Linked DNA regions of Homo sapiens. The protein of the gene in region 4 purifies or fractionates together with the protein of the main gene of each other region. This does not show direct contact. Each region holds a gene or a part of one and is shown on either strand. Other genes may lie near its edges.

Region 1 (4,314 bases), on a different chromosome or scaffold from region 4:
GTTCAAAGAAATATAAATGTTAGAACAAGACGAAACAGCCATATAGTGTAACAAATACATTTCAAAGTCATTGCCTCCCCTTCTCACCCAGAATATATATATATATATATATATTTTTTTTTTTTTTTTTTTTTTTTTTTTTTTTTTTCTTTTTGAGACAGGAGTCTTGCTCTGTCACCCAGGCTGGAGTGCAATGGCATGATCTTGTCTCACTGCAACCTTCACCTCCCGGGTTCAAACAATTCTTGTGCCTCAGCCTCCCAAGTAGCTGGGACTACAGACATGTGCCAGTACACCTGGCTGATTTTTTTTTGTATTTTAGTAGAGATGGGATTTCATCATGTTGCCCAGGCTGGTCTCCTGCCTGAGCTCAGGCAATCCGCCAGTCTCAGCCTCCCAGTGCTAGGATTACAGGTGTGAGCCACCACGCCTGGCCTTATTTTATGCTTTTTGATAGTAAACCATTATTGTGGCTGTTCCCTATGTTAGGGTACCTAAGATTCCAAATTAATTCACATAATGAAGTGATGCCTTACGACGTATTGCACTCTAAAAGGTTTCTTGGTTCACTTAACACAGAAATTCTGATCAGGTTTTTATTACTCCAGCAAGGTGTGTGTTCAAATCAGAACTGTTTCCCTGGGTCTGATAGAGAAACATTGATAAAGAAAATTATTCTGAACTTGATTTAGAAAGGGAAAACTTCCCCTAACTACTCAGGAGGCCGAAGCAGGAGAATCACTTGAACCTGGGAGGCAGAGGTTGCAGTGAGCTGAGATGGCGCCACTGCACTCCAGCCTGGAAGAAAGAGTGAGACTTGTCTCAAAAAAAAAAAAAAAAAAAAAAAAAAGGAAAACTTCATGTTTACTGCCCACACATTTCTAGAAACCTTCCTACTTTGGAGCTTTGTAATAAATTCAAAATGATGGCACAACACCATTAAAAGGTTTAAAACATTTATCACTAAAAATACTAAATGTTCTTTGAAAACCTATTAAGACATTTAAATATTCTTTTATGCTATCAAAAGACATTAAAATATTCTTTTACGCTGATCAAAAGAAAGAATAAAAGTTTAGGAAAGGGAAAAATGCACACTTTTTTTAAAAAGTTTATTTCTAGCCCTGAAAGAACAAAATTATTGAACAAAGTCAAAATACAGCAGTTAATGTCAATGTATAACAATTAAATAATTGAACGGGATTAAATTAAAAATAAAAGGCATAAAATTTGAAGACAACAGAAAAGACAAAAACTACTTTTGCTTAATTCCATTTCTATCAAAACAAGAAAAAAAAAGCCAATGCGTTCCAACCAAAGATGTTGAATTCCACACGTAACTGTTTCTCTTATTACTTCTGTTCTCTTAGAAACACTTCTAAGTTCTAAGAGAACAGAAGTGTGCTTGACAGAACTATCATCCATTTCTTTCTGCCTCTGTCTTGGCAGCTTTCTAGAGAAGTGAATGGGAAAGACTTCGGTTCTTTCAAGGCCAGGCCAGCGCTTGCTTCTTCTTTCGAACTCCAACCTCATCCACCACAGCATCTTTGCCAGAGTGTTCAATCAATGTGTTGACTGAGAAAAAAGAATGTGTGTATCTATTTTTTCTTATATACACACACTATCAAAAAACTGATTTTACCAGTTTCAATACCTACTGTGGGAGCAGCGGAGACAGGAAGACAATCTGCTTTTTGTATTACTATGAAGTTCCACTATAAAAAACCCCAAATGAGTATTAATCTGGATTTTAGCTATAATCTATAATATTTTGACACTGACATTTCACTAGATGTGGATCTCAGTATATTTTAAAAGATTTAGACTCAAAAATGGATGCAAATTCTTTAAGCATCTATTTTGTTTTTTTCTAATTTTAGCTACTACCTGATCAGATCTAAAATTATTCTGGCTAGAATACAGTATATACAAACATGTATTTAAGTGAGCCCTAAAAGAAATACTCATAGGTGGTTTAGAATCGCTTGTTAGAGGCACAGGTTCGTTTACAGTTGCTGGTTACTAGACTGTACGCAGCTGGACACTTCTATGTTAAAGGGAAGAGAATGAATACTATGTGCCAGGCAGTCAACACATGAAGACAGAGTTGTATTAGCCTCAGTGTCTTATGCTTCACAATTACTCGTTTACTTTCAGGTAGGATAAAATGTTCCATGTTTCATAGTTTCCCAGTTTTAATTGTCCCTAAAAGCAGCAGAAGAAAAAAGAAAAAGAGAAGATAACTTTAAATCTAAAATAAAATAAATAAGTACTATAATAATACTGTCCTAATAACACAAGAGGACTATTAAGGTAACTTTCAGATTTAAATGGGAATTTTCATTCTAAAGTGATGACAAAAAGGGTAAATATAAAAGGCAATTATTTAAAAAACATGAGGCCAGGTGCAGTGGCTCACGCCTGTAACTGCAGCACTTTGGGAGGCCAAGGTGGGCAGACTGCCTGAGCTCAGGAGTTGGAGACCAGCCTGGGCAATGTGGTGAGACTCTGTCTCTACTAAAAATACAAAAAAATAGCTGGGTGTGGTGGCGGGTGCCTGTGGTCTCAGCTACTCAGGAGGCTGAGGCATGAGAATTGCTTGAACCCAGGAAGCGGAGGTTGCAGTGAGCTGAGATCATGTCACTGCACTCCAGCCTGAGTGACAGAGTGAGACTCTGTATCAAAAAAAATAAAAATAAAAAACATGAATCTTGATTCAGATATAATTTTTCTTTCAACAAGTTCTGAATGTTTTAAAATTAATAAATCACAATTCTGTATTACTTTTAAGATTGTTTAAAAATGACACATTTCAAAATTAACCAAAGTATATTTCTGTTAGAGGTTAGTTTATCCACGTAACTTAAGAATAAACCACAGCGTAGCTCCCTTAACCAAAGAGCCAGGTTTTAATGACAAGTCAGTTGCCAGCAATGGACGTGCAGGTAACTATCGAAGAAGTCGCAACTACAAATCCCAAACTGCTTCTATCAATGGAAAAGCCCTTTGTTGAGTCACAAGCCTGAAACGAGGCGTTGGCACATAGTCAGTGAGGATGGTCTTTGACTTAGGAGGGAAGTGCCTCTGAGTACATGAGGATCACAGTCTTCTCATCTCGTTGGTTTTCTATTTCATTGGTAGCATCTTCTTTATCATAATCCATCCAACTGTTTACAAAGAATGGTAAAATTTGGAACTCAGGTGGCACTGCAGCTTTCTGCCAGAAATAAACCAGTTTCTATAATTCAGTAATAGCTGTAGAAGGCCAATATATTCCAGAGAAAAATGAAATCAAGAATTATATTGAAAACAGAGACCATTAAGTGCTCTAAATATGTTTCATTAATTATTTTACTCATTTTTCTGAAAATCTTGCCTTATCAATAAAAAACAGTCACTTCTCTCCTTATAATTGCATCTTATCATAGATATAGTGGAAATAAAATAATGGAAATAAAACCTGCCAGTTTCTCCAATGTATACTACAACAGCAAAATTATTTTTTATTCATGATTTATACTACTGCAGGATGGCAAGCAGGGGGGAAGTTAATGGGGGAAGGGGATGGTGGGAACAAAATGCCAGAACCAAACCACAGATACTTGAACAACACCCACTCCAAAAGCAAAACAATGAATAAAGGAGAAGAAGAGGAGAGGAAAAAAGAGAAGAGAAAAGGGAGGGGAGGGGAGAAGGGAGGGCACTCAAATAATTAATGCTACAGGTCTCAGACCTTTTAGAATCTTTAAAAGAAACAAATTATTGCTATCAACACGCACATTTCATTTTCCTTTCTCGTTTTTTACAATAGTCTCTACTTATTTGAAAAAACAAAACAAAACTAAACTAAAGTAACTCAACATCTCAAATGATCTATAAATTCATCAAGAAATACTCTGTCGCTCAAGTTCTCATAGATAATACCACACTGCTGACGACCTGGGGCAATGCCACCGCCGCCAAGTCTCTACAGTCGATTTGCTATCGGCTGCTTCTCTGTAACACTAACATTCTCTTTCATGAGTATAATCTCTTCTCACTGTATCAGAGCTCACCAAGGTTCACATCTCTTACTGCCTCTGCTGCTAGTCCCAAATATTTTTCTCCTTTAAGTGGAAAAAAGCTAATTTTTAAATTCCTGAAAATTCACTGGTTATTATATTATTTGCCATGGGAGGGGGTATCTGTGAGGTGAGAGAGGATTAATGAAAAAGAAAAAGAACAAACCTAAACCTAAAATTGCAACATATACAGAAATTTATTTCCAAATTGAAGGGGGAAAGGAGGGAAGAAGGTAGTGGCACTAACCAAAGT
Region 2 (4,668 bases), on a different chromosome or scaffold from region 4:
GACTTCATTTTAAAATTAATTTTACCTGTGCCAAATACTGCTGTGGAAGTAGAAGGCCGCTCAACTGGTGAACTCTGAACAACCTCTACTATGTTTGAAGATAACTCTTGATTGGCAGGCTCAATCTGAGGATGACTCTGTTGAGTGGGTTGCACAAAAGCTGTAGCCTGTGTTTGTTGCTGAACAGTTAAAATAGGTTGAGAGATAGAAGGCTGGACATTAGGACTAGTAGAACGAACGGATCCACTTGTGCTTCCAAAAACTGGAACATGTTCCACAGGCCCTTCTGACTGCATAGCTGAAAAATAATTATAATGCTGAATATAAGCCTTCTACTTTTATCAAAGCTGAAATTATCCTTCCTATTCTGTGGTACATGTCACCTTTCACACAGATTTGGCACTTGGTAGACAAATACATTGTAGGTAAAGGTAATGTATTATGCATTTTTATATTCCCTATGTAATTGATATGGTAGCATGCAATAAAATGTTGCCTGAATTAAATAAATATCTGTAACTGATTTTGCATCTATTCATTTAAATTACTGTTGAATAAAATTAATGAAATTAAGCTCAAAGTAAAATTAGAATTTTTCATTAAGCATCATTTAGTTTTTAATTGATATAACAGATAGTAAATTTGATTAGTAATATATTTAGTTTATTGGATGTAGCTGAAATAAAACATTCTCTACTTTCACAGCACAGAAATACTTGAATAATTTACTGAATTCTAACATTTGTCAAGATAAGAATCTAAGGAAATATGCAGGTAGCAAAGTTTTACTGAACACCTACTGTGGAGTTAGGTAAAGGGATTAAACAATAAGAAGCTGAGATTTTTGCCCTTGAGGAGCTCAATGTAGTGGAGTAAAAAGCATGTATACCACAGAATAAAATACAAAGTTGTAATTGCTGTAATGAATAACAAGAGTGTCATGGGAAAAAATTGAAGAAAGCAATGAAATGGTCAGTTTCAGTGAGAAAGCAATGTTGGATTGAGCCAGTAATTCAGTATGATTTTCCAAAGTGGATTTCATATATTCTTTGTCATTACAAGTGAAAATTTTGGTCCTAGAAGTATGTCCTTCAAATATTAAACACCCATTTTTACAATGACGTGACTTCAGCTGTAGTGGATGCTTCATTTGTCTTTGAAATTACTGTCATCTTCTCATAATAAATCTAAATAAGCAGTCTCATCAGATCTGTATTATTTTACTAACCTTCCTGTGATTCCACTTGTGTAGTGGGCATCACTGTAGCTGTTGGGGTAGTAGTGGGATTTGTAACAGTTGCAGGTGTAACCATTGGGCGGATACTAGCCCTGGGTGTTGACTTATTTCCAGCCATAGCTGCAGCTGTCACTTTACTTGGAGTAGACACAACAGGAGTTGGCTTGATATTGGCTGTTGGTGGGTCTGATGTGCTGGCACTTATAGAGGAGAAAATGGAAGAATAATTAATAACAAATTATTATGCAAATACTTTTAAAAACACAGTGAGTATAGGTCTCCATTTTTTTGTTCACTAAATATTTCAGAGCCTTATTAAAGCTGTTTTGAATTTAAGCATTAAAAACTACACAGGGAATGCTCCAGAGTGGTGCATCCTGACAATGTAAAATGTATCTAGCTGTTGAATTGCTGAACCCAAGTCTCAGCCCAGCATTTTCTATCTGTCATCATGTAACATCACGGGGAAAATCAGTAGCAGCCTAACTTAGAAACCAACTGTAAACTAAAAGATGAGAGACGTTTTCTCTGTCACAAAGCTTCATCTGATAGGACTGAAAGTATGGTGAAAACAAGCTGGCAAATACATGATACAGTTCTGCAGAGAAAACAACTCTTTAGTGTATGTTTTTACAATAGAATACACAGATTTCTTTTTCCTAAACAGAAAGATCACTAGATATTCCCTGAGCTTTAAAAGAAAAATAACAGACTATGAAATAACTAAAACTCACATTCCTCTTTCACCAGAAGCTGGAGTTGTTTTCAATGTGATCTGTCTCTGCTGTTCAGGGACCTATAAAGAGAAAGCTCTTGATTGTTGTTCCTAGCCCACAAGAGTCCACTAAAAATGCCACAAAAAAATTGTCATTATTGTTAATTCTCTCCGCATATATTGAATTTTAGCCAAAATTCACTGACAAAGGCTCCTATATCACCAAGCACTTTCAAGTAAAATGTACAAAGAAAAACAATTTGTTACTTAAGCAGAATTAGCTAATCACCTTATTAGAAGGTTCTTGAGGCTCATCTCTCTGCTCAAGGTGTCTCTCTTGATGCTCCCTGAGTTCTCTTTCCAAGCGACTAATTCGACCTTCATATTGGGACTTTAGCGCAGTAATGCGAACATCCAATTCATCTTTCTGCTGATCTAAGGCTCCATTCCTTTGTTTAAGCTCCTCATTTTCTTTAGTTAGCTGATCTTTTACACCTAAAGAAGTAACCAGGCGATTATATTAATATTATAATCAAACATTTAAAACAGCATTTATGCACTTAATTGGCACATGGTCACATCAGATTCTACTACTATAACATCTACATTAGTTATGATACATCATACATCTCAATGAGCAAAGTTCTAAGTACATTCATGCTTTAACTTATTACTAGAATATAAAATATACTTACTCCAACATAAAAATTTACTTTTTCCTAACTAAAATCTCAAAAAGCTAAAGATCCTAGTTAACAGAAGCCCGTTTATATTTCAATGTATCATGCAATTCATTACTATGAATTGCAAAATTTTTATTTCATATAATCTACAGCACTGTTTAAAAATAATTCAAGAACTTTTAAAATCAAGTAAGTTGTTAGGACACTGTCTTAGAGATCATTTTAAAAAAATGCCTGTAACAAAATCCAACTGATTTGACATTTTATTTAACTACTCAGCAGACTGATAGGCAAGGCTGAATAAAGCCCTGAGCCTTGAAGAACTAGGTTCTTCATAAATTTGACATGATACTCTCCCTGAAAAGCTAGAGGGGTCCTCCACCAAACGAGGCACAAAAAAATCCCTGGGCTGGTAAAGATCTTTATGCAGTCTACATAAGGTTTCTAGACAGCACGGTCTGGGCTCAAAGGATCTCTGTCACAAGATAGAATTGTTATCCATGAAAGCAGAAGGATAGCAGTATTCCATTATCTACTGCCAGCCAACAATTGAGAAAAATTTCATCATATCAAGGATATCCTCATCACTTGAAAATTAGGATTGCTCTTTGTGTCCAACTAATTATTCCTAATATTTAAAGCACACATACACACACAAACACCCTTCATAAGTAGATACCTTTTATTTCTATTCCATTTAGTTTTAGGCCTGCAACACATAATCAACTTTCACTACCAAGTTCAAACTTTAAACAGATATTTACCAGCTAAGTGTGCAATTTTTGACTTTGCTGCTACAATAGCCTTTCTGGTTTTTTCTTCCTTTTCAGTTATCTGTTGTCGGAGCTGCTCCTCCTGTGTGGTTCTATCTTGAAGATCCTGACGAAGTCGTGAAAGTTCAGACTGAAGTTGCACAGTCTGTTCCTGGAGATTTCTTGCTTCTGTCTCTTTTTCAGATAATGTCTTTAAAGGAAAACAAAGTATTCACCATGGAATTCAATCATTTCAATATAAACTGTATGTGGTAGCAACTTAAAGTATAACTTATTAATTTGCTTTTTAAAAGATTAAATGGAAGTATAAGTATAAAAATGGTGGTCAGACCAACTAAATGCACACTTGAAGATGATTGGGTACTACTTACATACATGAGCCATTCAAAGTAAAAAGAATAAAATGTATCCATTCCCACATGGTAAGACAAAGTGTCAGTAGTTAACACATATTTCTTTAGGTGTATAACAGGAAAGAATTAGGAACAGACTGTTCTCACACTCATACCTTCTGCAGATTCTCTACTTGACTTTCAAGTGATTTTGATTTTGTTTCAGCTTGGTTGAGCGTTTCTTTGAGTTCCTGCATTTCCTGGACTGAAACATGCTGCTCCTGATGGTCTCCAGAGGACTGAGCCGATGTCTCCATAACCTAAGACAACAAACAGTAATAATACACTCACATATTTATATTCAGTAATTCCATTTCTGCAAGTTTGTCTAAGAAAATAATCACAGCTTTGCAAAGAAATTTTATCCCTGAAGGTATTCAAAACAGAATTTTCTATGAAACAACTGTAATCTCCAAAAATGGGGAACTAGTTATGGTTTTCCACATAACTGAATACTAAACAGCTAATCAAAATGATGCATTATAGTTGAATTTTCAACACTTAACTGTATTTTCATGATAATGAATCAAGTGAAAAAAGTATACAAAAGAATATAAGCATATAATATTATTTCTTTGGAAAAACGTCGCTTACATGTATGAAAAGGGATACTAATGTACTAATAGTGGCTAAAACAAAGGGGTATTAATTGTGAATTTTTTTTCTTTATATTTATTTTCTAATCCAACATGAAATAAATACATAATTCTCAACATACAAATTCCTTACCTTCAGGAATTAAAAACAATATTTAGATTCAAAATATAAATATAACAAAGATTTCTGAATTTTTTTGATAGGTGGTTAACATAAACAATTTATTTAAAACTATACAAAACCAGATTAGTCATCATTTTTTAATATACAC
Region 3 (3,726 bases), on a different chromosome or scaffold from region 4:
TCTTGAACTTCATCACATACAAATGGGCTTTCATGAGATGGTCAAGTAGTATGTCCTGCCAATCTTCACTGGGTGTGTAGTTAGGGCCCAGCCACTCCCCTACTCCACCAGCAGGATCTGTCACTGAGCCCCCACAAGGAGCAGAGCAGGGCAGGAGAGCCTGGGTGACTCCCACCTAGAGCCAGGAGGTTTTTGAGGATGAGGTATGTGGACACGTGGGCATGGTTTGGGATGGCCTCACTTGGAACGTTTTGGTCTTAGGAATGAAATGCTCAGCCCCCAGCACTGACTTGTGGCAGGTGCCCCAGACCGGTCAGCTGGCTGTCACCATAGTCACACCACCAGCACGCGCCACCCGAGTAGCTTGGGGAAAGTAATACCAGAGTGTCTAAAGGCGGATCTGCACCGCAGGCTTCTGTGTCTCCCACAGCCATTGGCATAAGGAAACACGGACACGGACTACTGGCCCTCAGTGTGCCGTGTGAGCATCCACGCTCCCTCCCACGAACACATGGGGTTCTTGACACAAACTCGCAGGAACGAGAAGGTAACATGGGTCGGGCCCACCCACTGTGTCTCACCACAGATCAGCCTTCTTCCCAACATCAGTGCAGTCTACAGCGTGTCTACTGATTATAGCTAAGCACTTCTTCACTAACCAGTTAGAAAAGAAACCCCAAAAGGCTTTCCATGACAGCCTCGAGAAATTCCGGATTATTTAGCATGTAGATCTCACCTGGTATGTGTTTTATTTCATGCCCTAAGATAAAAAATATTATTTCATTTATACTCAAAGTGGTGGATGGATATTAATCTTTACCTCCAAGATGACTAGCAGATTTATAAAGAAAAAGAAATTTAAAGAACTTCCACAAGAAATAAGTTACACCAAGAATACTGTTATCACTACAAATTTTATTCAGAAACCCATCTTTGTATGTTTTTTTTTTTGTTGTTTTTTAAAAAAAATTCCCCTTATGAACTGGTTTGGTCAATCAACTACAACACTTTCTAGCAGACATAAGGTAAAAATGGCATGGCTCAGAATCGCCCAGATCTTTCACGATCTCTCGACCGCCTCCTGTCACGCTCCCGTCCGCCGCCACCTCCACCACCGCCACCGCCACCGCCACGACCACGGTCTCTAGACCGAGAACGACGCTCCCGGGATCGGGATCTTGATCTATGCCTGCAACCAAGGAAAATAAAGAAAACCGTGCCATCCAAACCACGGCACGCAGCACAGAACCACACCCACTCTCTCAACACGCGCAGCTCCTCAAGCCAACGGCACTGATAAGGAAAAACACTGCTGAAGAGACTGCACGCCGTGACTGAGACACACCCTGATTTCAGGTGTGAAAAGTTTCAGGAGAAAAAAATGTGCAACTTAGAAGTGAACAGGTGTAATACCTTGCATCTTCTGTCTTCTTCTAGAACCAACTCAAATGGTCACAGGAAATCATAATCAAAATGAGCTGGACACATACCATCTTCAACCCTCACTGACCCCACGCTTCAGGCGCTCATAGCTACTGTGTCCATCAGGTTTTTGGGCTGGGGAGAGCAGGCCTGTTTTTCTCTTATGCTTCTTGAATGCTGACAATAAAACAATCGCCACCCATCTATTTACTAGTCCATGTTTAACAGAAGAGGGATGAGAACCTCTCCAGACTCAGAACTCAATCGGTTCGATTCTGACGTCTTGATTTTCTCTGCTCTGTGACCTGTCGTACATTTAAATGTAGGATCAGAGAGATGTGACCGCTGGGCCTGATTCTGCCAGTGTCCCGAAGGGAGGATGCCAGCGATCCCAAGACATAATGAAATGCCCTAAAACCAACAAGCAAAACCAAAAGAAACCCCAGTGGACATGTGAAATATGTAAAGCAAAAGCTTGTCCAACCTGCAGCCCAACACAAATTCATCAACTTGCTTAAAACATTATGAGATTTTTTTTGCAATTAAAAAAAAAGTTATCAGCTATCATTAGTGTATTTTATTTGTGACCCAAGACAATTCTTCTTCCAATGTGTCCCAGGGAAGCCATCCCTGATCTAAAGGAGGTTACAACATCTATTCTTCTTCTTCGTAATATCTGGGAGAATAAACTGCATGCCCACTTTCACCACGAGCCTCATGTCCGCGGCTGCCCAGCTAACCGCCCTCTTGCTTGATTACTAAGATCTGATCTCTACTTGAGAAGTTGGATAATGAAGTTACCTGTGTGCAGGTGAATATTCTTCTCCAAAGAGGACATTTGGATATTTAAAAATATGTACTATGTTCTAAGCACTGCCTTTTAAAAAACAGAAACGACACCTATGCCAAAATTTTTTTTTTGGAAGGGGGAGGGTTGTGAGGGGAGAAAGAAGCCACTGAGCTTAACAACGGGCACAGGAATACTCACTTCTTGCGACGGCGGCCATACAGCTCCCGCCGCAGCTCTCTGGAAATGGGCTTCAAATGCATGAAGTTGCAGAAGCCGCCTCGTGTGCATTCTCTGTGGGTGGGTTGGAAGGAGACATTTACTACCTCGTGTGCACACGGCCCCGAACTGTGCTCAGTCACGTCACTGGCCACTCCTCACTCACCCCATCTCATACTGACGGCAGCAGGCTTCTCTGAAGTCCGTCACGGGTGACAGCTCGGCGTGGATCGGCTGTCCATTAAACCAACGGTTATTCAAGTCAATCACAGCCTTTTCCGCATCTTCCTCACGGCGAAACTGAAAAGACAAAAACAGAAGTGCTTGCCATCCACGCTTTAATAAGACTTTCTCAATTACCAATCCAAGTATATCAGAGAGAGATATACACACTCAGGTATAGTAAGGTGGAATAGTATTACAGGATAATTGAAAAATCCTTTATTTTCAATGAGATTAACTTCAAGATAGTCCAAGATTTTGCCAAATGTTGCCTTCATTTTTCAAATTCAACTGGTTAAAGGAGCAAATATGGCTGTGTAGGCAAATAAAGTTTTATTCACTAAAAAAGAAAAAAGAAACCAAACATGTGAGTAAACCTAACTTTTCCTTAGTCCACACAGCTTCTAAACCAACAGGTACTAAATATTCTACACTGAAATAACGATGGCTGTGGTGTACGGTCCGTCCTTCAGTTCTGCTGGCTGGGCGCACGTGTGGGCTGGCCACCGCCACATATGACGCAGCTGGTAGGCGCCGAGCCAGTGCACCTGAGCCCTGCTGTGCGCCTGAGCATCCAGGATCTCAAGGTGCATGGCGACAGGCACCCCATCCTCTGTCGGCCTTGGCCCCGGCACACTAAGCGGCTGCACCACTGTCTCGCTTTCGCCTGTTGGCCTTGGCCCTGGCACACTAAGCGGCCACGCCGCCGTCTCGCCCTGGCTCCTACCTTGACGTACACGTTCCCCACCAGGTGGTCTCCCAGGTTGTCACAGACGTTCATCTCCTCTACTTCCCCATACTTCTCCTCCATTTCTGTAAAAACCTCCTGAAGGGAGACCACAGTGGTTTAAGACTCGTTATACATTACAAAGTGTCATTAGATATAACTCATGTATGTTTATTAGCAGAGAAACATTTTAAATCCTTCCAAACAGATACAGAAGATCAACAGGTCTATCAGTCACAGAGTTCAGTTCTCTCACCTCAAAAAACTCATCATAGTGTTCCTGCATCTCCACATCGCTCACGGCACCTGCAAACAACAGAAATCTTGCTGGTTAGAACATGTTAACCGA
Region 4 (4,668 bases):
AATGTCCTACTGGCTACACAGGTAAAACCCTATTCAATGCAGGAAGGGCTGGCTTCCTCCAGAGTGAGTAATTTGAGAAGAGGCAAGGTGGGGGGCCATAATGCCTTTTATGACCTAGTCTTAGAAAATGACAACACTTTCATCTCCACAATGTCCTACTGGCTACACAGGTAAAACCCTATTCAATGCAGGAAGGGACAAGAAAGTTGTGAATACCAGGAGATAAGAATCACTGGGGGCCATTTTGGAGCCTAGCTGACACAATGAGTAAACTTTCACTACATATAAATAAGAAAGTGACAGAAAAATAATTTTGCTCCTGAGAAAAATTTTCTAATGAATACACATATATTTGTTCAAATTCTCAAGTTATTTGACTCTGCCAAATTTTCCTCTTTCTTTATAGGTCACGTTATCATACTCCAGAGATTGGAAAGGGGAGATATTTATTTAGTAAGTTGGAGACTATAGATTAATTTCTTACCGACCACCATCAGTGTGAACTCAAAACCTTTTTTCACTGATTTTCGGTGAACTTGATTGGGGAGGTTTGCAAATCCAACATAGCCAGGTGTTTCTGGATTTATAAACTGAGTTGGCTGTTGCTAAATAAGATTAAAAAACAAACAAACTAATAAACACCTTAGTAGTTGCTTTTAAGATATAATCAGTTAGACATGAAACAAACATAGGTTATCAGTTTTCACAAATTTTTTAAAAAGTATAAACACTTCCAGAAGGTCATACTTCTATCAGAAAACCAGTAGTATTCAACTAGGAGCATTAAAAAAAGAAAAACTTATCTAGTATAACTCCTTAGTTGTATGCGACTGAAAATTAACATTTTGTTAATCAGTATTCTGTTTAGGAATTTAACAATACATAGAAGATACATGCTTAATACATCTTAATGCAATTTCAAATTTCGACTTGAGAGACTATGGAGTTCCAGGAAAATCAGTCAAGCTTACAAAGTACTGCTACAGCTGACAGTACTTTGAATGAATGGTTTCATTCAACAAACTTGGCTAAAGAATAGCTTCTCCCAGGTATTAGGTGCAATGCATTTCTGAAAAGTATCGAGGAAAAAAGCATCTCTCTTGCTGTGCTTCTAGCTCTATAGAACAGAGTTTCATCAAGGGTGAGGCAGGCAAATTAGGGGTGGGATGTTGAGTATCTAGTGTCAAAGACCAAGAAAGAAAAGACAGAATGAGAAGATCATAGATGACTACACTGAAGCATCAATATTCCTTGACAGAAGGGTATCTGATGAGAGAGAGGACAGAGATATGAGAAGGCAAGAATAGCAGAAGTAACCAGAATCTAGACAGTGGCATACTGAAAATGAGAAGAAATTTTAAAAATCAATTTATTAATTGAAAAAGGCAAGATACAAAATAGTATTTCCTTTAGGATTACATTTTGTAAATGTATAGTCAAATGCACACACAGGTGAAAAAGAATATATGTAACATATTAACAGTGGTTATTCCTGAGTGGTGAAATAATGACTTTTTTTTTTGCTTATCTGTGTTCCATGCTAACACTGGTATAAAATGCAAAAACTGGTATGATGATTTTGCATTGGACAGTAATGAACACCCACAGGATTCAAAGATAAAAAAAAAACAGAAATAATAATCTTGCAATGTTAACCACAAGTTCTGCTTTTCTCAGAATATGTTCTTTAGCACTAATTTATCTCTGAACTAACTTGCAAAGGCTGATTTAAACCAATTTATCAAGTCTAAGAGCCCCATCAATTTCATCATAATAAATTATCAGAATTCTAAATTATCTGGTCTGCTGGGAATGAACTAAGGGGGCCAAAAGGACTGTTACTGATGTGTGTAGAGAAAAGAAAGTAGAAGCCTGAAAAAAGAGAAAGCTCCAAGCTTTTAAGATGACAATTAGGCCAGGCACGGTGGCTCACACCTGTAATCCCAACACTTCGGGGGGCCAAAGCGGGTGGATCACGAGGTCAACAGATCAAGGCCATCCTGGCCAACACGGTGAAACCCCGAATTTACTAAAATCCAAAAAATTAGCCAGCGTGGTGGCACGTGTCTGCAGTCCCAGCTACTCCGGAGGCTGAGCCAGGGGAATCGCTTGAACGTGGGAGGCAGAAGTTGCAGTGAGCTGAGATCATGCCACTGCACTCCAGCCTGGTGACAGAACAAGACTCCCGTCTCAAAAAAAAAAAAAAAAAGACAACTAAATTAGAACTCTTTGTGTTAATGAATCAAATGTATCAGTTGTATTAAAAATAATGAATCATATAAGTCCCGACTGTCAACAGTCTGAAAACATAAAGCAATTTCTCCTTATGCTGTAGATACATGAAGTATGATCTTACCTTAGACATCTTTTGTGAAGCTTCGTCTGTTAAAAAAAAAACACACAGACACACATAAACGCACATACATAGTATGTATGTATACGCACGTATATTTAACAGCGTGAACTGACCTGAAGAAGACTTACACATACATAGGCAATGTAAAAAGAAAATACAATTTCAGGACCTTCCAAATGCATTAGGCCAAAGGGAAAAGTTAAGCACTGACAGCTGGCTCGTGTAACATCACTACTTTTATTCTTTCTGACTTTTGTGTTTAGATGTATATATTAACCAGACCCCCTATTCTTTATTCAAAACTAGACTAAATGACTGGGAGATGAGAGATCCTTATGACTGTTACTTCTTTACAAAAGGAAGTTAAACAAATCCCTTCAAGTGTAATCAATAGTAGCCAATCAAATTTGTATCTTTAAATGAGCCTTAGTTCCGAAAATGTTATAATTCTGTTTGGCACCTCCATTTTGCCTATATAAACAATCCTCATTTTTCCCCACCCTGGGAGCGCTAATCACCATTCTTTGGTGTAGCTCGCTTACACTCTGTACTTAAATGAATTCTTTTAACTGAATCAGGAGCCTTTTGATTATTTTAGGTGACAGCATCTCAATTACTTCAAATATTTCCCTAGGAATAAGACAAGCATCTATCATTACAAAAATAAATTCGATTAAAAAAATTAGGCCAGACGTGATGCTCACGCCTGTAATTCCAGCACTTTGGGAGGCCGAGGTAGGCAGACCACTTGAGGTCAGGAGTTCAAGACCAGCCTGGCCAACATGGTGAAACCCCATCTCTACTAAAAATACTGATTCAGCCAGGCATGGTGGCGCTTGAGGTCAGGAGTTCAAGACCAGCCTGGCCAACATGGTGAAACCCCGTCTCTACTAAAAATACTGATTCAGCCAGGCGTGGTGGTGCGTGCCTGTGATCCCAGCTACTCAGAAGGCTGAGACAGGAGAATCGCTTGAACCTGGGAGGCGGAGGTTGCAGTGAGCCGAGATCATGCCACTGCACTCCAACCTGGGCAACAGAGTGAGACTCCATTAAAAAAAAAAAAAAAATTAGATGGTGGCTGGGTGCAGTGGCTGACGCCTGTAATCCCAGCAGTTTGGGAAGCAGAGGCAGGACTGCTTGAAGCCAAAAATTCAACACCAATCTGGGCAACATAGCAAAACCCTATCTCTACAAAAAATTAAAAAATTAAAAAAATTTTTAAGTTGATAAAAGCAACTGTATATATATATGTACGCACATATTCCATATTTTCAATAATATTCAAATTTTTTTTCAGTACTGACTATATGTTAGACACTAGGGACACAAATGGGATACACACGGATACATACTTCCCTGACCTCTGGAATTATGTCATTTCCCCTCTCTCTTTGAAACCTTTCAAGGAGTAAGGGACTTCATTACATAGAGCACTGTAACTTGAACATGTTTGCCACCCACTGGAGTTTCCTAGAGCTACCTGAGAACTAGATTTTGACACTGGGGTACAGAGAGCAATGTGAACTACATTTATGAGGAAAGGAAATAGTACTGAAGGCATCTGAGTGTCTGAAAAATGTGACAATATTTTTAAAGATATGTGGAATTTTTTTTTCTCTTTTCTTTTTTTTTTTTTGAGACGGAGTCTCGCATTGTCTCCCGGGCTGAAGTACAGTGGGTGATCTCAGCTCACTGCAACCTCCACCTCCTGGGTTCACGCCCTTCTCCTGCCTCAGCCTCCCGAGTAGCTGGGACTACAGGCGCCCGCCACCATGCCCGGCTAATTTTTTTTTAATTTTTAGTAGAGATGGGGTTTCACTGTGTTAGCCAGGATGGTCTCGATCTCCTGACCTCATGACCCGCCCGCCTCAGCCTCCCAAGGTGCTGGGATTACAGGTGTGAGCCACTGTGCCCAGCCAGAGATATGTGGAATTTTTAAACAAATTTTAGAAACCCTGAAGCTTTGGAAAGCATGGAGTCTGTTGGCTAACCTTCAGTAACAACCCCAAGAAAGATGACTGCTGTCAAATTTGGTTCCCTCTGGAGCTTAGAAACTTATTAAAAAGCTTCTCTCACTTTGCCTCTCGATTCCCCTCCCCCAAATCTTAACTTCCTGAATACTGTGTCCTCTGTTTCCCTTTTGACTGGAAATGTTCCCAGCTACTTTGGAAGAAATGAGATCCCTGCATCCCCAGTGTTATTTGGCTTGGTTAACCAAGGGATAGTAGCAGTAAGGTTCAAGAGCCTTTAATTTCAGCAAAACCTAAGAATTGAGAGCAAGTGTGAGTGTGGAGGAGTAGAACTTCCTAAAG
Region 5 (5,242 bases), about 73 Mb from region 4:
TTCTTTTTCGTCAAGATTGCTTTGGCTATTCAGGGTCTTTTGTGGTTCCATACAAATGTTAGGATTGTTTTTCATATTTCTGTGGGTAATACAATTTAAAAATTTTGATAAGGATTATACTGAATTTGTAGATTGCTCTGCATGTTGGGAATTAAGGTAGTATGGTGGGTAGGAAGCTCTAGTCCACATCTGTGTATTCTAGCAATTATATAGGCCCTCGTGGTGATTTTTATGTACTAACTTTATCCTTGCATTCACCTTGTAAGGCAGTTCTTATTGTCCCTTCATCCTAATTTCTTTATGCATTTTTACATCTCTATCCTATTGTATGAATGTATGCAAACTACCTCAAATGCCATTAGGATGGATATGAAAATATGGGTGGAAATTTAATACAGACATTAAATGATATTTATAACCATGTCTAAATACAGATATTAAATGATATAACAATTATGACAAGGCAGTTATAAATAACTTTTTTTCTTAGTAATATATATTTGCTTTTTAAAGTATATTAAAGAGCCACCATATCTAGGGTTAGCTAGGAAAAAGCAATGGCACCATCCTGGGAGTCCACCCCTCTGAAAGATTTTTGATTAGTCTCCATGTTGCAAAGTCCTCCAGTTATTCATGTACATTTTATCCTCTTAGTAGAAGATAAGGGTCTTGTCTTTTCACCCACAAGTTGTACAGAAGAGTGTAAAGAACATGCTCTGAATGTCAGGAAGTGAGGATCCTGGGAGTTTAGCTCTGCAAGTAGTCCTGTAAAGGGCCTTGGACAAGTCATTCAACCACTCTGAGCCTCAGGGACTAACAGCATTAAAATGAATGAAGTGGTTGGAAGGAATCATTCTCTCTTGTCCCCTATAGCCCTATAGGGGTTTTAATTCGAAGACCATCTGTCTATATGGAGTAGAAATGTTTGCCTTTCATTCTCTCCTCATGCTAATTCAAGTTACTTGTCAAACCCAGTTCTCTGTACTGGATGCATGATGCCTCCTCACTCTGCCTCTAGGGCACTTTCACTAGTTAACTCTTACTAGGCATTTTATGAAAGTGCTAAATGCCATTGCAGTAATGCAGATGATATCTAAAGGAGGAAAGAAACAATGCAAAACAATCTCATTGTGCAATACACTTTTATTTTCCTTTTACCTTTGCAGTCATCTTCGAGTAATCGTTGTGTAAACAATAGAATGGAATGAAATTACATTAAATTGTATGCAAATGGCTCTAGAACACCTTAACAATTATGACAAGGCAATTATAAATAACTTTTTTTCCTTAGTAATATATATTTGCTTTTTGAAGTACATTAAAGAGCTGCCATATCTAGGGTTAGCTAGGAAAGAGCAATGGTACCATCCTGGGAGCCCACCTCCTTGAAAGATTAGACTCCAATTTTCAAAATCCTAAGGTTTACTAGTTCCATAATATACAGTCAAGCAGAGGGCTACTTGGGTTGAAAGTATTGATTCTTGAACCTTAACAGCGTTTTACCTTTTAGTCATTGCACAAAACCCTTCCAATTTTCACTCCACCTGGGTATTCTGCAAAATTTCAAGTAAAACTCAGATTCTGATATTTTCAAGTTTATCACCTTTAGAATAACAAATCCTATCACTTAAGGAGAGCCAAATCAGAGATGGGTATATAGTTAGCAATCTAACAGAATGGCAACATTTTACATAGCATTCTAAACGGTCCAATGAAGCAAAACTTAACATATGCCACCTTATATAGAGGAAATTTTAGATCTGAGACTATTCCAGAGTAAAGCAGCCTCAGGCACATTCTTAATGTGAAAGTTTGCAAGGCACCTCCCTCTCCCAAGAGACAGTCAGATTGTAAATTGGTTTTTAGGCAAACAGACTAAAAGAATAAGCATCCAAATTCCTAATTCAGTCATTTCAAAATTTAGAAGTTACAAATACTCCAAAGACAGACCCAAAACTTTTTGTTTAAATAACGAGATTAACTGCAAGAAGCATATAATCAAAACCCTTTTTTTCTTATAGCTAAGGTGTGTAATGCATAAATATATGAAAAATAAAATTCACAGTCAGTTTTAAAACTAGAATTCAAGTTTGGCTAATAAATCTTAATTTTATAAGTATATTAATTTCTAAATACAACATAAAAGAGGCAGTATTGTCAGATGTACAATTAAAGTATTATAACAGAAATAACAACAATGAAAGGAGAAATAGGCTTCTGGATAGAAAATTCCTTTTGTTGCCAATAAATAAGACCACCTGAGTGTATTTCAGATTCTTTTCACTTAAGGGATATCCAAATTGATTGCTAAGAATATTAAATAGCTTTTGGAAAAATGAGCAACAGTCGTGCAGCTGTGGCATTTGCTTGTTCTTGTACTGTGGATTGCTAGAGAATAAAGCAGAACTCGGAGTGTTGTAAGTTTTAAAAAATTATTTTTTTATCCCATTTTGTTGAAGCCGGCCTCTTCACAATCTTCTGATTTTGCTAGGAAATGGGAGTGAGGGGGTGGGAGGAAATGGGCAGAAAGAGGGAGGGTTGAAGGGAGTAGGGGTGGCGGTGGGGCATGACAGATCAGGGTGACATCAAGGGACATACATCAGCTGACACTCAACTGAGCAAACCCAATCAGCTTCACTTCATCAGGAATCTCCGACCCATCACAGCCAGAAGCCTGAAAAGGGAAAAAGAAAGCCTCAATGCTGGTTTGCTGCTGCTGCTGGTTGTTAAAGTCTTGTTCCTATGATGGCAGATCTAAGCAAAGGCACAGTTGGTATGGGACCATGTGTCCCATTTCTTCCAGAAGAGAGACGCCAGCCACTCTCTCGAATGACTACTGGAAGCTAAGTGCTGTCAGCACTGTGGCCATCATGCTATGAAGTACAGAACAGAGGTGGGAAGGGATTTGTTATCCATTAAAATACCATGCCCAGGCTGGAAGCTTTGGAACAGTCAGTGAAACACCCCTGCTAAGAAACCACAAACAAATTTTTCAAAAACTAAATAAAATTATTTTAAATATACTTTCTAACTAAATCACCTTAGTAATCATTCTGAGAACAACATGAAAATAAGCAGAAGAGATCTAACAGGTCACCCAGGAGTAATTTAGTTTTTACCAAACTCATTTCTTCTATGAAACTTGCCAGGAAAAAGTCATCACCAAGTACTGCGATGGGCTCATTAGAGAGAACTGCTATATAAATACCAGTGAATAAGTTTTACAGGGAAAGGTATTATAACAATTCTTTTCTATAAAAGAATTTTGTTTATATTTTCAGACATATTAATTGCCTAAAATTGGCAAAAATTATGGTGTGTCAAATACTTTATTTTTCTTACTTCAGAATCAGACAGAACTGGAAAAAAGCCATTGCCTTGGCCAGGCATGGCGGCTCACGCCTGTAATCCCAGCACTTTGGGGGGCCGAGGCAGGTGGATCATGAGGTCAGGAGATCGAGACCATCCTGGCCAACATGGTGAAACCCCGTCTCTACTAAAATACAAAAAATTAGCCAGGTTTGGTGGCACACACCTGTAGTGCCAGCTACTTGGGAGGCTGAGGGCTGAGGCAGGGGAATCACTTGAACCGGGGAGGCAGAGGTTGCAGTGAGCCGAGATCGTGCCACTGCACTCCAGCCTGGCGACAGAGCGAGACTCCACCTCAGAAAAAAAAAAAAAAGGAAGCCATTTCCCTTCAAACCTCTCACTGGTCCTAATTAATAAGTTATTTCGTTTTTCTTGTGACCTCTCCCCCTTGCTTGCTTTTAGACACACACACACACACACACACACACACACTCTCTCTCTCTCTCTCTCTCTCTCTCTCTCTCCCCCCCCGCCCCCTCAGATCCACCATTCTAAGCTGCCTCTCATCCTATAGTACATAAATCAGAATTGGACATTACATAAGAACAACAAGGAAGGGAGAAAAAAGTATGATGAATGACTGGGAATGGGCAATTAATTACCAAAGGATCATACAAACCTTTTCAGAGCCTAATTCCTGCTAAATTATTGTCACAACAATTAGTTTCCCATGGAAACGTGCCCTTTCCAATCACCACAATTAAGCTGCATAGCACTGCTTGTATACATTTAGAATATGTACTATACTGTTTTTTGAACTGTACTGTTCATAGTGTACTGTTTTTTGAACTGTTCAAAAAAACAGTACAGAAAACCAGCATCAACTCTAGCATTTTCTATTAAATAATCAGCTAACTATAATGTTTGTACCTTGAATATTTTCAAATGATTATCTTTAAAATAACATCCTATGTAAGTAGTTATGCTTATGTAAAAAAGTCACTAGCCTAAAGGATAAAAATATTAATCAGTATTTAAAGAAAGGAATTTACTTTGTACCTATCCAGTGATATCTCTGGTTTCATCTGACAGATAAAGATGTTCAGAGAAGTAAAATTGTCATTGTTTGTGTTGACAGGGGCGATGAGGTCTGAAATGCTCTTCTCCTTATCACTTTCAACAAAGTAGTACAGGCATAGAGGGCATTTTGGCTGAGGTATTTCTGGTGGTGTCACACTGACACTGTAATATTCACCTTCCCTATCCATTTTCTCCTTGTGTTATCACTGTTTCTTTATCTACCTTCCTAAATCATCCCTTCTCTCTCATGTGTAGCTCTTGTTAACATCATTTACTCAACCCACTGAATAATGGCAGACAACCTGTGTAATTAACAGGCAACTGACAAACATCCAAAGACAAACTATGGCTGCTGGTGGTGACAAAAAGGTCACATTGCCAAATGTGAAGTACACCAATGTACTTCAAATCTTCATCAGAAATTTGGCAATGTGAATATCAGGAGGTTAAAATGACTAGAATAAAACTACAATATCCAATAGTGGTTGAACTGACTAGAAATGAGAATATTAAATCCTTTCTTGTGAAGAGTAATGGAAATGAGAACTTACTAGAGTAGGTGATAAACCAGTGGTTACGGTGAGAACATCACAGAAGGAGTCTTCACAAAGTTCCTACCCACCCTGGGTCCTCAGTGCCTCCCATAGCTACACTGAAATGTCTGTCTCCTGGCCAGGACCTTTGGCTGTGTTTGCTTCAAGGCGCTCAGCCCTCCTTCCTCTGCTACCTGGGCTCTCACTGCTGAGTCCAGGGCTCTCTCAGCTTGCAAAGCACAAATGAGGGTGATATGCAAATGACTCTGAAATTCAGAGAAAGGAACCAATGACCCTTCAAAACAGCAATGTTCAAACTT
Region 6 (4,668 bases), on a different chromosome or scaffold from region 4:
ATGGAGTCTCACCTTGTCACCCAGTCTGGAGTACAGGGATGTGATGACTGTAGCTGAGATGACAGGCATGTGCCACCACACCTGGCTAATTTTTGTAGTTTAGTAGAGAAGGGATTTCACCCTGTTGGTCAGGCTGGTCTCGAACTCCTGACCTCAGGTGATCCACCCGACTCAGACTCCCAAAGTGCTGGGATTACAGGTGTGAGCCATCATGGCCGCCTGACTCTTTCTGATGCCTGAGTGGCTACCTTGAGTCCTGCCTGGGGACCCATGCACCTGCTGTTCTCTTTCCTTCAAGGCTCTACTCACAACTTCCTGTTCTACTCTCAAACCTTCCTGTGACGGGCTCAGTCAGATCTCAGCTCACGTATCCCCTCAGAGAGGACTTCCCCTCCCTGACCACCCTATCTGAAGTAGCTCACATTCCCCCACTATTCATTTCGGCCAGTTGAGTTTCCTTGTAGCAATTATTACTGTCAAAAATGATCTTATTTATTTACCTGTTTATTGGCTTTTGACCCGTTGCCTGTCCTGTTCTCTGTTGTTTCCCCAGCATCTAGAACAATAGGTGCCTGACACAATAGGTGCTTCGTAAATATTTATTATTATTATTATTATTTTAGAGACAGGGTCTTGCTCTGTTGCCCCGGCTGGAATACAGTGGGATGATCATGGCTCACTGCCATCTCCAACTCCTGGGCTCAAACGATCCTCCCACCTCCGCCTACAGAGTAGCTGGGACTATAGGTACACAGCACCAAATTTTCTGTAGAGACGGGGGTCTTGCTTTGTAGCCCACACTAGTGTTGAACTCCTGGCCTCAAGTGATCCTCCTGCCTTGATGGGATTACAGGTGTGAGCCACCACACCCAGCCTAAATGTTTATTTCATTGGTCAGTGTCAGAACTAGGATTGGAATTTAGATTGTTAATCTCTTGCCACAAGATAGGAAAATGGAGCAAGATGAGGAGAAAAAAGCATTTAATGGGAGAGAACACCCTTGTCTGAGGTCAGGGACCTGGGAAGCAAGCACGACTTTGCCACTGTCACTGTGTGTTACTTGGACAGTGCCTTATTTTCCCATCTGTGAAATAAAAGAGCTGGATAAGAACCTTAGTTTTGAGATCCTGTCTCCCTTAAAAGCTGAAGACAAAGGTAACTGATCCAAGGGCAGACAAGGGATGGTACCATCATCTCCAGCTTGGACTCCCACTGCTGACAAAATTTGTCCCTTCAAAGTTGAGATAGCTACCATGGGGAAGAGCACTTAGTTCTATACTGAATGGCTCCAGGCATTTTCATGAAAGCTCTTTCAGCTTTGGGGAAGAATATTCATCCATATCTTTACCCCATCATATTAGTGTCTAAGCCCTGCAATCAGGCATGTCAGCCACGTGATGGAATGGGAGGGCTGCAGGGCAGCACTGTCCAGTAGAAACGAAATGCAAGCCACATATGTCATTTTAAGTTTTCTTTTTTTGAGATGGAGTTTCACTCCATCACCCAGGCTGGAGTGCAGTGGCACGATCTCGCCTCACTGCAACCTCCGCCTCCCAGGTTCATGTGATTCTCCTGCCTCAGCCTCCTGAGTAGCTGGGATTACAGGCATATGCCACCATGCCTGGCTAATTTTTGTATTTTTAGTAGAGATGGGGTTTCACCATGTTGATCAGGCTGGTCTGGAACTACTGACCTCAGGCCACCCGCCTTGGCCTCCCAAAGTGCTGGGATTACAGGCATGAGCCACCGCGCCCAGCTAATTTTTGTATTTTTATTTTATTTATTTATTTATTTTTTGGGAGACGGAGTCTTGCTCTGTCACCCAGGCTGGAGTGCAGTTGTGCGATCTTGGCTCACTGCAACCTCAGCCTCCCAAGTAGCTGGGATTACAGGCATGCACCATCATGCCCAGCTAATTTTTGTATTTTTAGTAGAGATGGGGTTTCACTGTGTTGGCCAGGCTGGTCTTGAACTCCTGACCTCAGGTGATCCACCGGCCTCAGCCTCCCAAAGTGCTGGGATTATAGGCGTGAGCCACTGCACCCGTCCTAATTTTTGTATTTTTAGTAGAGATGGGGTTTCACCATGTTGGCTAAGCTGGTCTGGAACTCATGGCCTCAAGTTATCTGCCCACCTCAGCCTCCCAAAGTGCTGAGTAAGCCAAGTTTTCTAATAGCCACATTAGACAAGTAAAAGGAAACAGGTTAAATTCATTTTAACATGTTTTACTTAACCCAATGTATCCAAAATAGCATTTCAACATGTCATCGGTTTTTTAGTTTTTTTTTTTTTTGAGATAGTGCTTCGCTTTGTTGCCCAGGCTGGAGTGCAGTGGCACAATCTCGGCTCACTGCAACCTCCACCTTCCAGGTTCAAGTGATTCTCCTGCCTCAGCCTCCCGAGTAGCTGGGATTACAGGCACCCGCCACCATGCCCACTAATTTTTGTATTTTTGGTTAGAGATGGGGTTTCGCCATGTTGGCCAGGCTAGTCTCAAACTCCTGACCTCAGGTGATCCACCCACCTCGGCCTCCCAAAGTGCTAGGATTACAGGCGTGAGGCACCGTGCCTGGCGTCATCGGTATTATTTAAATGAATTATGTTACGTTCTTTTGTGCTGTCTTCAAAATCTGTTATATATTTTACACTTACACCAAATCTCAATTACCATGGTACATTTTTATCTGAAATGCTTGACCTTTATTTTGATTTCATAAAATTCATAGTTGGAGAAGTAGATTCACATATCCAAGTTGTTCCAATTATATAATAGTTTTCCAAAAACTGAGATGGGTGTCCATTTTTTTTTTAAGTAAAGATGCAGGTCTGGTTATGTTGACCAAGTTGCTGGGTTGTTTTGTTTTGTTTTGAGACAGAGTCTCACTTTGTCACCCAGGCTGGAGTGCAGTGGCATGACCTCAGCTCACTGCAACCTCTGCCTCCCAGGTTCAACTGATTCTCTTGCATCATCCTCCTGAGTAGCTGGGACTACAGGTGTATGCCACCATGCCTGGCTAATTTTGGTATTTTTCTCAGAGACGGGGTTTCACCATGTTGGGCATGCTGGTCTTGAACTGCTGACCTCAGGTGATCCGCCCACCTCGGCCTCCCAAAGTGCTGGTATTACAGGCATGGGCCACCACACCTGGCCTCAGCTGTTCAATTAAAAGTAAATACAACTTAAAATTCTATGTTTCATTGGCAGTAGTGCAACATTAATACTGAGTAGCCACATGTGATTAGTGGCTATGGTATTGGACAGGGAAGGTACAGAATACTTCCATCAACATAGAAAATTCTATCAGTCTAGCTCTAGGGGCAGATAGTCCTTCCACTGACTTGGGCAAGTCACTCTACAAATGGCATCTACCTCACATGGTTATGGTGAGAATTCAGCGTATGTATGTACATGCAGGCACACAATATGCACACAGACACATAACATAGTACACCCTTTCCTGAAAAGCCTGACACATGGAGCTCAAACATGAGTGCCACCCACCCCTGGGCAGCACCAAGATGGCTCTAGTCTGGGTGCCTTTGTCTCACCCCCATGCCTTTGCTCGGAGTGTGCTCCTCATTTTTCTGCCACTTTGACCCTGTCTCTGATTTGGTCCTGTCTGACATCACTGCTATATGCTTTGCTCCTCTCAATTTCCTCTGCCCTCATGCCAGCAGGAGTCATGCCAGAGATCATATCTGAGAAAGCAAGACAATTTTGTGTGTGTGTCTGTGCCCATAGAGGAGTGCTGGTTGTGTTGATATAGTTGTAGATTGGTTGTGTTTACACAGTTGTATATATTGACACCCTTGAGTGTTATGACTTCTTTTGGGGGTGGTCGCCTTTTAAATCATAACTTTTAATGGGATTCCATTTTAGTCTTTGTGAAGACATAAGGTTGTTGGCAGGCATCTGTCCCTGGGAGCATCCAAGCAGAAAAGACTAAGACTCCCTTGTAGACAGATCACTGGCCGCCACTGAAGTGTGTCTGCATGGCACCACAGGGCTGGAAGACCCTTGAAGGCAGGAATTCAAGGAAATGTATGATGAATTTTGGCATTGCCATCAAAAGCAGAACAGGCATGGAAAACTTGGGTGAGTGGGCGAGACAACCTCCTCACCACAGCAGAGTTCCATCCATGCCTGGATAATGATGGAGGGATTTGTGTCCACTGCAGTGGGGAACCATGAAGGACACATCAAGGGTGTGGTTGGCCTGTGGTGCTCTTTGGAGGAATGAATAAAAATGAATAGAAATCCTATTGCGTGTCTGTTCTTTTGGAGTTTGAGGGAAAAGAAAGATCCTTGAGATTTTGACTGGGCTGGAAACCTAGACTCCAGCGTCTGGGGATAGGAGGGATGGTGGGGAATCCGCTGGGAAAAACTGGGCTGTGATCAAGAGAATTTATCAGTATCTGAGTTTTTCCACCCTGGAAGGAGTGCGGGCAGACTTACTGTTTAAACATTGGGAGCTTATGATGGTAAAGCGCCTTAGTTCTGGAGCCAGGTATACCCATTAATGACCCCAACTGGGCCAGCCTTTCTGTAGCCATGCCCTTGGATTGTTGCTCTCCTTCTAGGTTTGACTATGTGGTTTGCTTCAGCCACTAGAACAATAGCAAACATGATACAAGCAGAGGCTTGGAAAGTGCTTATGCGGCCGGGTG
Region 7 (4,310 bases), on a different chromosome or scaffold from region 4:
ACAGCATGGGTACAAAACAAAACAATCTACACTGAAACCCTGTGTTGGAATGCTTTACTTTCCACAGAACAGAAACTATTATACAATTAGTCACAAATACAGTCATCAAGTTCTGTGATCGTGGTGGCTTTGGTGGCAGCCATGGTGGTGGTGATGGATATGGTGGCAGTGGGGATTGCTATAATAGATTTGGTAATGATTGAAGCAATTTTGGAGGTGGTAAAAGCTACAATGATTTTGGCAATGACAACAATCAGTCTTCAAATTTTGGACCCATGAAGGGAGGAAACTTTGGAGGCAGAAGCTCTGGGCCCTATGGTGGTAGAGGCCAATACTTTGCCAAACCACGATACCAAGGTGGCTAAGGCAGTTCCAGTAGCAGTAGTGGTTAAGGCAGTTCCAGTAGCAGTAGTAGCTGTGGCACTGACAGAAGATTTTAATTACTGCCAGGAAACAAAAGCTTAGCGGGAGAGGAAAGCCAGAGAAGTGACAGGGAAGTGACAGGTTAAAACAGATTTGTGAACTTGGCCAAACACAGTGGTGGCAGGGCCTAGCTGGTTCATGCTTTTTTTTCAAGTGAGTTTCCCTTCACACAGTTTCCATTTGAGTCCCTAAGCTCTCAGGGCTACCACTATACTTGATTCATTTTGCATTTCCACTGTGTATCTCCCTCCCAGTTTCTCCTCCTCTTGAAAACATCACTTTTGTGACCTCCGTAAGTTTTCTTCAGCCTTACATTTTTTCAATTTCTTCCAAACTGAGGTGATAACTCTTACAAATTCTTTTTCCTTTCATAAGTAACCATTCCTCATGCATGTATTAGACCTTTAACTGTTAAGAATCTAACATAGTATTTAAAAAGTTAATTTTGAGGTAGCACTAAATTCAAATTACTTTACAATTTGCCATAAATACTGCGTTTTGCTTGACATTAACAGCAGCAATTCCACATTTCAAGAAATTAAGCAGTATTAGTAATACTGCAGGTATCAAAATTTTTTTTTTAAATCTTCAATTACATGTGGGCAGATGAAAACAACTACTAATAGAAATTTAAGGGAAAGATATCCAATTAAGGGAAATGTGTCCTAAAGGAAAAAGTGAATAAAAATTGAGAAAACAATTAAAGAAATGGAAAGAAAAGACCACTTTACGGATTATAAAAGTTATATTTATTCACGATGCTACATTTATTGCATTCCCTTAGAAAAATGGAGAACTGTTTATGTACCCAATCTGCACATATAAAATTTTATACAAATTATGTGTAGCACATAAAGGCCTCTGGTACAGCTAAAATCCTGACACTATAATTTGGGTATTCCTGCTTTAGGGTCTCCAGTTTATCAGGTCTGTCCATAGAAAACAGAAACTGGAATTATAGTCAGTCTTGCTAACACTTAGAAACTACTTTAAAATACAATAAAATTTTCATTTACCCTAAAAGTCCAAATGGGAGGGGATATATTTTGTTACCAATTTCAATGTAACAGTATGACAAATTCACACCTCATTTTGGCTGGGCTTTCAAAATTAAAAAAAAAAAATCACCTTAGTTCTGACATTATCTAAGTTGTGGCTGCTTCAGAAGGTCATATGACAAAATATTTACCAAATAATTAAAAATAATAATAATAATATTCCTTTTACAAAATGGTACAGTAATACCTTAAGGAACCGGAAAATACTAAATGTCTTTGGCTATACAACTAAAAGGCCATTCTTTCAAAAGAATAGGGCATATTCATTTCAGAATCAACTAAAAAAAACAGAAAGCATAACAGAAATATGCATAGAATTTAAGTATACTTTGTCTTGCCTTCTTTTCCCATTCTACCCACATAAGCAAGGAGAATGCAATTTATATAATCTTTCCAGATGAGACTCAATAGCACTACAAAGAAAATACCCAAATTTCTGCAAAGGCAAAGTGAATTAAAATAATTACACAACTAGGTGAAGACTGAAAGGGACAAATGTTATTTGCAATTTTCTTTTTAACTTGTTTTTAAGCCTTACAAGTGTAGAAATTATAGCTAATAAACAAAAAGTCACAATCTTCACAAATGGAACTACAATAGAAAAATAAATCAAATGAAACACTTAGTAATAAATGAAGCCTATTTTATTACTTCAAGTGTTAATGATAAAAAAATTTCAGCACAGCTGTTGCATTTAAAAAAGTGAAACTACATACTATGTTTCTAGCTCAGTAAACAGATGAACCTGATGTCTTTAAATGACATAACAATTGAGCATTGTACAGTACATCTTATGAAGACCCGTAAATTAAAGAACTACTGGTTTAAAGTTAGTGATTATGAAACAAAAACATATTCATAGTTTCAGCTTCTTTTTTCTTCCTCGACCATCAGGTGCGCCATCCATTTTACGTTTCTGTGTCTACAAACAGACAGAAGGATTACTTTTCACAAGACTAATATAAACATGAAATATAGTTGCAGACACATTATAACACTTTAGTAATAACAACTACTACAAAGTAATAGGTATGAGACTTTTCCCCCAGGCTATATAAATCTTTCAAAGCAAACTATAAAGCCTCCAAATAATCTTACCTACTTATTTTACTTACAGAATAAAAAATGTTAATGTTAATAATGACGTTATAAAACTAATGCACAATTAACAGTAGTAGATCAATATCAAATAAATGCAAGCTTCCCAAAATAGTAAGAAACACTTGAGTTTTTAAAAGGCAGTTACATAAGTACCAAATATTATCCAGAGATACTCATTTATTCATGACTTTATAAATTAACCATTTTTTATTAAATTAACTATTATTAAATAACATTTTTTCCCTTTAAGTGTTTGCCTTCACATTGCTAAAACATCACTGAAATAATCAAAGCTTAGAGACTAACAGTAAAAGTCATAATACCACTGCTTTTCCAATGTTTCTTAAATTATTCTAAAATTATAACTTGTATTCTCAATGAGATGTGTACACACTTGACATTTACGAGACATACTTTCCTGATTTTCACGAAGCCCCATATTAAGGACTACCATATCATCAAGAAGTGATTTTTCCCACACAACCCAGTCAAGCTAAATTTGTACTTTTTAAGTATTTCAAGGAAGTCCTAGCTACAGCAATCAGACGAGAGAAAGAAAGAAAGGACATCTAAATCGGAAACAAAGAAGTCAAATTGCCCTATTTGTAAATGACATAATCTTACATTTGGAAAAACCTAAAGACTCCATCAAAAAACTATTAGAACTCATAAACAAATTCAGTGACACTGCAGGATACAAAATCAACATACAACAAACAGTAGCATTTCTATGCCAACAGTGAAGAATGTGAAAAATAAAAAGTAATCCCATTTACAGTAATTACACGTGAAATAAAATACCCAGGAATTAATCAAAGAAGCGAAAGATCTCTAAGATAAACTATAAAACACTGATGTAAGAAACTGAAGACACAAAAAAATAGATATTCCATGTTCATGGATTAGCAAATTCAATATTGTTAAAATGTCCATACTACCCAAAGCAATCCACAGATTCAATGCAATCCTTATCAAAATACCCATGACATTCTTCACTGAAATAGAAAAAAAAATACTAAAATTTATATGGACCCACAGAACACCCAGAAATAGCCAAAGCCACCCTAAGCAAAAAGAATAAAACTGGAAGAATCACATTACCTGACTTAACTTATAGTACCGAGCTATAGTAACCAAAACAGCATGGTGCTGGTATAGAAACAGATACATAGATCAGTGCAACAGTGGAAAAGAACAGAGAACCCAGAGATAAGTCCGTAAAGTCCATACATCTACATGGAACTCATTTTTGACAAAGCTACCAAGAACATACACTGGAGAAAGGACAGTCTCTTCAATAAATGGTAATGGGAAAATTGGATATCCATACACAGAAGAATGAAACTTGACCTGTATCCCTAACTATATAAAAAAATCAAATCAAAATGTATTAAAGACTTTAAGTCCTCAAACTGTGAAACTACAAGAAAACATTGGGAAAACTCTCCAGAACACTGGACTGGGCAAAGATTTCTTGAATAATACCCCACAGGCAACCAAAGCAAAAATGGACAAATGGGATCACATTAAGTTAAAAAGCTTCTGCACAGCAGAGGAAACAGCAAAGTGAAGAGACATCCCACAGAATGGAAGAAAATATTTGCAAACTACCCATTTGTCAAAGGATTAATAAATAACCAGAATATGTAAGAGCTCAAACAACTCTACTGAAAAAAATCCTAACAGTCCGATTTAAAAATAGGCAAAAGATCTGAACAGATGATTCTC

Evidence for each region.
Region 1: the proteins of SEPTIN2 (region 4) and PAK2 purify together in Homo sapiens (co-immunoprecipitation; one large-scale study listed by IntAct). This does not show direct contact.
Region 2: the proteins of SEPTIN2 (region 4) and TPR fractionate together in Homo sapiens (co-fractionation; one large-scale study listed by BioGRID). This does not show direct contact.
Region 3: the proteins of SEPTIN2 (region 4) and U2AF1 fractionate together in Homo sapiens (co-fractionation; one large-scale study listed by BioGRID). This does not show direct contact.
Region 5: the proteins of SEPTIN2 (region 4) and STK39 fractionate together in Homo sapiens (co-fractionation; one large-scale study listed by BioGRID). This does not show direct contact.
Region 6: the proteins of SEPTIN2 (region 4) and IRGQ fractionate together in Homo sapiens (co-fractionation; one large-scale study listed by BioGRID). This does not show direct contact.
Region 7: the proteins of SEPTIN2 (region 4) and SMARCA5 fractionate together in Homo sapiens (co-fractionation; one large-scale study listed by BioGRID). This does not show direct contact.

What each region holds. Positions count from the first base shown.
Region 1 is NC_000003.12:196,829,273-196,833,586, reverse strand, and holds the end of PAK2 (serine/threonine-protein kinase PAK 2), read right to left. Parts: 3' UTR 940-4,314; downstream 1-939. UniProt on the Homo sapiens protein: Serine/threonine protein kinase that plays a role in a variety of different signaling pathways including cytoskeleton regulation, cell motility, cell cycle progression, apoptosis or proliferation.
Region 2 is NC_000001.11:186,333,097-186,337,764, forward strand, and holds part of TPR (nucleoprotein TPR), read right to left. Parts: intron 4,061-4,668; coding exon 3,917-4,060; intron 3,599-3,916; coding exon 3,400-3,598; intron 2,448-3,399; coding exon 2,242-2,447; intron 2,034-2,241; coding exon 1,972-2,033; intron 1,438-1,971; coding exon 1,229-1,437; intron 299-1,228; coding exon 26-298; intron 1-25.
Region 3 is NC_000021.9:43,092,061-43,095,786, forward strand, and holds the end of U2AF1 (splicing factor U2AF 35 kDa subunit), read right to left. Parts: intron 3,684-3,726; coding exon 3,634-3,683; intron 3,477-3,633; coding exon 3,378-3,476; intron 2,729-3,377; coding exon 2,595-2,728; intron 2,504-2,594; coding exon 2,411-2,503; intron 1,190-2,410; coding exon 1,042-1,189; 3' UTR 896-1,041; downstream 1-895. UniProt on the Homo sapiens protein: Plays a critical role in both constitutive and enhancer-dependent splicing by mediating protein-protein interactions and protein-RNA interactions required for accurate 3'-splice site selection. Recruits U2 snRNP to the branch point.
Region 4 is NC_000002.12:241,321,930-241,326,597, reverse strand, and holds part of SEPTIN2 (septin-2), read right to left. Parts: intron 2,383-4,668; coding exon of another isoform or gene 2,366-2,382; coding exon 2,357-2,365; intron 606-2,356; coding exon 485-605; intron 1-484.
Region 5 is NC_000002.12:167,952,897-167,958,138, forward strand, and holds the end of STK39 (STE20/SPS1-related proline-alanine-rich protein kinase), read right to left. Parts: exon of another isoform or gene 2,681-5,242; intron 2,675-2,680; coding exon 2,600-2,674; 3' UTR 1,126-2,599; downstream 1-1,125. UniProt on the Homo sapiens protein: Effector serine/threonine-protein kinase component of the WNK-SPAK/OSR1 kinase cascade, which is involved in various processes, such as ion transport, response to hypertonic stress and blood pressure.
Region 6 is NC_000019.10:43,585,531-43,590,198, reverse strand, and holds part of IRGQ (immunity-related GTPase family Q protein), read left to right. Parts: 3' UTR 1-4,668. UniProt on the Homo sapiens protein: Autophagy receptor that specifically promotes clearance of misfolded MHC class I molecules by targeting them to the lysosome for degradation.
Region 7 is NC_000004.12:143,551,212-143,555,521, reverse strand, and holds part of SMARCA5 (SWI/SNF-related matrix-associated actin-dependent regulator of chromatin subfamily A member 5), read right to left. Parts: intron 2,404-4,310; coding exon 2,338-2,403; 3' UTR 1-2,337. UniProt on the Homo sapiens protein: ATPase that possesses intrinsic ATP-dependent nucleosome-remodeling activity.